Homo sapiens: one gene and its partner. The protein of the gene in region 1 purifies or fractionates together with the protein of each later gene. This does not show direct contact. Each region holds a gene or a part of one and is shown in the gene's direction. Other genes may lie near its edges.

What was found.
Region 2: the proteins of MOCS1 (region 1) and ANKRD49 purify together in Homo sapiens (affinity purification with mass spectrometry; one large-scale study listed by BioGRID and IntAct). This does not show direct contact.

The regions. Positions count from the first base shown.
Region 1 is NC_000006.12:39,910,463-39,913,962, reverse strand, and holds part of MOCS1 (molybdenum cofactor biosynthesis protein 1), read left to right. Parts: intron 1-127; coding exon 128-189; intron 190-534; coding exon 535-646; intron 647-958; coding exon 959-1,071; intron 1,072-1,588; coding exon 1,589-1,699; intron 1,700-3,500. UniProt on the Homo sapiens protein: Isoform MOCS1A and isoform MOCS1B probably form a complex that catalyzes the conversion of 5'-GTP to cyclic pyranopterin monophosphate (cPMP).
Region 2 is NC_000011.10:94,496,984-94,500,078, forward strand, and holds the end of ANKRD49 (ankyrin repeat domain-containing protein 49), read left to right. Parts: intron 1-1,087; coding exon 1,088-1,549; 3' UTR 1,550-2,595; downstream 2,596-3,095. UniProt on the Homo sapiens protein: Induces HBG1 expression. May have a role in spermatogenesis where it promotes autophagy in response to serum starvation, via the NF-kappaB pathway.

The DNA.
Region 1 (3,500 bases):
TACTCTGGCCTGTTTTAGAAAACGTTTGCCAATCTCCAGACTAGATGGGCTCTGGTGCTTTTCTGTGGGGGTGTGGGGGAAGAGGAGAGAGGACAGAAGTTCCTGGATCCTTGTTTCTCCCTCCCAGGCTTCCACAAGGTCATGGAGGGCATCCACAAGGCCATCGAGCTGGGCTACAACCCTGTGAAGGTGAGGCCGTGCCCCTGCCGTAGATTCCCGACTTCCCTCCACACTGCCCTGGCCTTCCCCTCACCGCCCCTTGGCCCACTTGAGAGCCCTCAGCTCTGGCCAGCATGGCTGAAGTACGTGCACCCTTCCACCTCTTCTCTCCCTGCTGGTCCAGCCCTGCCGACCCTTGAGAGAAACGAGAAAATCAGTGACCCCAAGGAATCCCGTAACTTAGAGAACTGAGTGGGAGAAGCAAGGAATGGGTCCCTGAGTGGAAGGCCTCAGTGAGTGCCAGGCCCCCAAGGGTCATCTCCACAAAAGAATGCAGGGGGCACAGCCCTCATGGTCCCATTGTTCCCCGGCCAGGTGAACTGTGTGGTGATGCGAGGCCTTAACGAGGATGAACTCCTGGACTTTGCGGCCTTGACTGAGGGCCTCCCCCTGGATGTGCGCTTCATAGAGTATATGCCCTTTGATGGTCAGTGACCAGGGATGGGTTGAGGGAGGGAAGAAGGGGTTGGGCCTGCAGGTCGCATAGTGTGGCTCACCCACTGGGTATGGCTGACCTCAGGGGCAGTGAGTCTAGGATTATGATGGGCTGTTGGTGGCTTCTCGGAGCCCGCTGTGGATGTGATTCAATCCACCAGTTTTAGGCAGAGCCCCCGTCCCTCCCTTCCAAGAGGCTGGAGAACTGATTGCTATGCTGTGGCAGGGGATGGACTCAAAGACCCCGGGGCCCCTTCAACTGTGATTCAGAAGCTCCCCTTGCCTTCCCCCATCCCGAATACAGGCAACAAGTGGAACTTCAAGAAGATGGTCAGCTATAAGGAGATGCTAGACACTGTCCGGCAGCAGTGGCCAGAGCTGGAGAAGGTGCCAGAGGAGGAATCCAGCACAGCCAAGGTTAGGGAGCAGGAGGGTGTGGGGCAGGCCTGGAGGAAGGTCGTACCTCCACCCTAGGATGGAGAGCTAGCAGGGAGCTGCACTGTGGTGGGGATGCTGTGATGTGGGATGGTACCATTTAAGCAGGAAGCATCAGTGCTATCACAACCACCTCCCTGTTTCATGGATGAAGATGTGGGCTCGGCTAGGGTGGGGGGCTCAGTAACATGTCAGAGGACACACTCCAGGAAGTGGCAGAGAGGGGTGCTCATCCCGCTTCCACGCAGACTTTTCTAAACATGCTGCCCACAGGTCCCTGCCTTAGCAGCTTTTATCTAGGGCAAGCCAGGCATAGGTCAACCCATGGGTCATCCATCCTACCAGAGTCTTCTATCACCTGAGGGCCTTGGGTGGAGCTTCACGTGGGGTCCTCTGGGAGAGGGTTGAGGAGTGGAGGTTCTGATGTCATGGAGTGAGAAACTGGGCTCAGTAGCCCATCCCCTCCACTGCCCTTTTGCTCCCACTCTCCCCTGCCCAGGCCTTTAAAATCCCTGGCTTCCAAGGCCAGATCAGCTTCATCACATCCATGTCTGAGCATTTCTGTGGGACCTGCAACCGCCTGCGAATCACAGCTGATGGGAACCTCAAGGTGAGCATCCCCTCCTCCACAGGGACCCCTTGCCACCTCTGTGTTCTCATGTCTCCTCCCACCTGTGCTCCCTGATTGGAGAGGAGGCTGGCAGGGCACGGTGTCGGGGGAGGTGGTTGGTGCAATAATGTCAGGTTTGGGGGCATGATGGGAGCAGCAGGTGAGGGTGAACTCATGGCCCCTCTGGAAATGTCACCCTGATTCCTTCCTTCCTTCTGTGGGGCCCTGAAGTAGCTTCTGGTTTATTGGGAGCTCCTTTCCAGCTCTCATGGAGCTGCAGGATCAATGTGCATTTTGCCTGGCCCCCGCCATGGTTAGCCCCTTCCACCAGGCCAGGGGCTCAGCTCTGAAACCAGAAATGGATGTTACTCATATCTAACAAGCATGTCCTGTGCATTCGTCCCTGTGGGGGATGTCGGGACCCCTTCTCGTCAGGGCTATGCAGACTCACAGGCAAGACCAAACAGAGGCAATGTGTGGCAGCACGAGAGTCCTTGCCACACGCGTGGCTAGATAGCCTGTGAGAGTGCAGGGCATCAAGAGCACTACAGACCTCAGCGAGCCTTGAAGAATGGGTGGGGCAGAAGTGGGGAGGGGAGGGTGCATACATAGGGTTCATACTGGTTGGGCGGGCTAGGGCAGATTAAAGTCAGCTATGGGAAGACTACATTGTAGGGGGCTTTGGTTCAGAATGTGTTCTGTGGACAATAGTGTGCTGCGTAAGGTTCCTGAACAGGGGAGACATCCCCCATGTATGTTTTATAAGCCACAGGCTGGGTGTGATGGCAGGAAGACCAATTAGGTGGCCATTCAGTGGTTCTCCAAATATGTTAGAGTGTGAATTGAAGGGAAGGAAGACTCAGAGAGCTTGGTAATGTTCGCGGAAGGAGAGGAGGAAGGCATCAAGGTAGCTGGAAGGCCTTGGGATCTTTTACAATTGTGGGAGGGTGATGATGGTGGGTTGGGTTTAGATGCATGCAGTTTGAATCCAAAAGGAACCATCCAGCAGGTTGCTGAAAAGCTTGGGGGTTTTTCTGGGCTGGAGATACGGAATTGACTTGGACTAGAGGTGGTATCTGTATCTGTGAGGTCTTGGCAGGAAATGGAAGGTGGGATTCTGAAGAGAATGTAATGAAGAAGCTATTTATAACATATAAGATTAAGGGAACCAATAAAGGATATTGAGGTACTTGGGACCAGCAGCAGCAAAGTGCTGTTCCCACTTAGGAAGGGCAAGGGGGAGGCACTGATGTCACTGGGGCCCAGGAAGGGCTGGAGCCTTAGAAGAGAGGCCACCTCATTGGCACTTGAGCTGTGCAGAGAAGCAGCTGCTGCCAGATACATCAAAGCAGGGAGGAAGTAGGGGAGAAATGCCTGAAGATTGTTCTTTCCCTTTACCCATTGATCTCCCAGGCAGGAGCCAGCTGGGGGGCGGGAGGGGAGGGTGGTACCAGGTGAAGTCCACAGGAGGAACCTCTTTGTTGCAGAGAAGGGAACCTGGAGGCTGGTTGGGGAGCGAGGCATGAGGAATAACAGGCACGCTGAAGCAGTTAGACCTATCCTAGATTTCACTGGTATCTTCTCCAGTGGTCTCTGCCTGCAGAAGCTTCTCAGACATTCTTCTTTCTCTGTGGCCACAGTGCCTTGTGCAGAGCTGGCACAGAGTAGATGCTTCATAAGTTTTGGTGGAAGGATGGTAGGTATATTGATTTCTGGGGCTGTCTCATCCATCCCTCTTACAGAAGCTGAGAAGCATTGAGTGAAGTTTGACCTTAAGTTGTCATGCCCAGCAGCCCTCAGC
Region 2 (3,095 bases), on another chromosome or scaffold:
AGTAGGAAAAGCACTGGGTTCAAGCCAGAAGACCTGCCTTTACTGTTATGGCCATCATACCTATCTCTTGATTGTGAGGACCAAATGAGACAATGTACATGAAAGCACATATTAAGCTGCAAAGTGTCATGCTAGGTATTATTTGGGGGTTTAAGGATAATTATCTATAAAGATAGCAAGCAATCATCTATATTTTAAAATCATTTATATAAAGTCATTAGGATCATTTAGGAAAGAGAGGATGGAAACTAACATTTATTAAAAACTAACTATACCAGGTACCTTATTACATTATTTTATTTAATCATCATGTATCCCTATAAGTAATATTCTTCTCTTTTATAGAGTAAGAAATTGAGATTCAGGAATATTAATTTGCCCAGGATCATCGAAGTGGAATGAACATCAAAAGCCTATTCCCTCTGCTTGGCCACTTCCACCTCATTTTACTAAGTTTCCCCATGTCTGTGTTAGTAAACTAATAACTAAAAGGGTCTCGCATTTTAAATAGCTTTTTAACCCAAGAGCATGCCACATTTAACCAGAGGCCCATAGAACAAACTGAAAATTACAACCTAAAAGGTTGTTTCTAAGGTTGTATTGAGAAGGAATTGAGCTCTTGAATCCCTAGAATTCCTTATTAATACTTTATTCTTCTGTTAAAAGTTTTATTTTTAAAAGTTTCATACAGTGTGTATATTGGTGTGATAATCCTACAGAAAAATCAAGCAGTTATGTTTTCTTCACAGATAACACATAAAATATTAAACAGAAAGCCTATGTTATTCATTGGACTGAAGCTTTTATGCAATAAACCTTAGTTGGACCAGGAGTAAATGTATGGTTTGATATTCAGAGAATCTCATTCTTAGAAGCAACAAAGTGTAGTTAACACTAACTTGTTCATTCTTAAATCAGTAGTCCTCTCCTCCCCAAAAAGAGATCTTAAATTATTTTCATTTTAAAGTCATCTACTAACAAGTAAGTTTTTATTCAACTTAATTAAATCTAACACCACAAGACAATTTTGTTTTAGTTATTGTTTTGGTTTGAGTTGAGTTGAAAGATTTCTTTTTTTTCTTCTCAGCTTACCACAGTGCGGAGACTCCTTTCTGAAAAGGCCACTCACGTGAACACTAGGGATGAAGATGAGTATACCCCTCTTCATCGAGCAGCCTACAGTGGACACTTAGATATTGTTCAGGAGCTCATTGCACAGGGGGCCGATGTTCATGCAGTGACTGTGGATGGCTGGACGCCCCTGCACAGTGCTTGTAAGTGGAATAATACCAGAGTGGCTTCTTTCTTACTGCAGCATGATGCAGATATCAATGCCCAAACAAAAGGCCTCTTGACCCCCTTGCATCTTGCTGCTGGGAACAGAGACAGCAAGGATACCCTAGAACTCCTCCTGATGAACCGTTACGTCAAACCAGGGCTGAAAAACAACTTGGAAGAAACTGCATTTGATATTGCCAGGAGGACAAGTATCTATCACTACCTCTTTGAAATTGTGGAAGGCTGTACAAATTCTTCACCTCAGTCTTAACAATTCTAGTAATTTTCCTAAGTTTCTAAATACCAGTGCCTCCTGTGTGTGAGATGTATTCCCATAATCAAAGTTGACGTCAAACATCTTACTACAAAAATTCAGTGACATTCATTATAACATTCTTCCAAGTGAATTGCCTGACTTTGATGTCAAAATGTATTTGAAAGTAATTTGCATATATCTTTAATTATTTCTGTGGAGTTTGTGATTTTTTTATCAGAAATAATTTTAATGTGTGTATACTTAAAAACTTGACACGGGTTGTACAGAAACTGGTATTTTTGGTGCTGATACAAGAGAAATGTATTTTTAAATATCCCACATCCTGGATCTTTGTTGGGTATTTAGTATATTGACATATATTTTTATAAGGTGAGGTAACTCAGAACTTAATTTAAAAGTCTTAAATATTCTGATACAATTCAGCTGTCTTCTCTACCTTACCATAGCCAGTTGCTTTCATTTTAAACCAGAGCAAGTAACATATTAGTGACTTGAATCTTCATAAGTTAAAGTAAAAAACAGCAAAAAACCTAGATCTTTGTCTTTTAGAACACAGACCATTTTCAGGAAAGCAGTTAGCTAAGTGTTTAATTCATGAATATTGTATACTGCATCCCCTACCACAATTTACACAATCCTGTGGATAGTCCTACCTCACCCTGGTCAACCTACATGATCCTTAAGCTAATGGCGAATCACGATGACCTTGTAGACATGCACACAACTATACCTTTGTCCAACAGATCATAATATATCTGCTATCCAACTGGTTTTACCTGCCTAATCCTACTGATTTGGGCACTGCTTGTATAGTCTCTCAAGTTCACAGGAAATGTTGATTTTCTAAGGTCCTCATTTTTACAGAGTATACAGGCAAAGTGACAGGGGAAAAGGAATTAGTCTAAGAGTAAGGGGATGATTATTATATTGAGGCTAAAACCACAAAGTGGCTCAGGCTTTAAAAAAAAAACACTGTGGATAATGACAAAAAGCATAAGTAAAAATATTTGAGAAAAATAAAGTACAAGTTTTGAACAACACAAAAGGCATGAATTCATTTTTTACCTGTGTATGTCTTTCTTGGATCCAGAACATTATTCATCCAGCACGCACTTAGTTATTTAACATCTACTCACTCAGTCTCTCCAGCAGCAATTTTGCATTGTCTATCTAGCCCCCCTGTGATTGTTCCCAAAGTTTTGTCTTCTCAACACCACAACACTCCAGGGGAAGGGAACTAAACCAGTTGCTCTTTACTTCAGTTAAATTTTTAAGATGTCCACCAAGGCTTATCTCTTTCAAGCCATCCTACGTAACCCAGTCACCCTAGACTAAGTAATAATGTTATTTAATCAAAGATTAAATATTTATTTTTGCTTAGAACTTATTAGATCATCTCAGAAAAGTCAGAGATAATATATGAACTGAATCATCGTGACAACAGGATCTTGAGAGTTAGTGCTTTAGTTTATGTTGTGATCTCTTCCTAGGGAGATGCTTTGTGGCAGAGGTTGCTTTCTGTTTAATCTGGCCTAAGTTA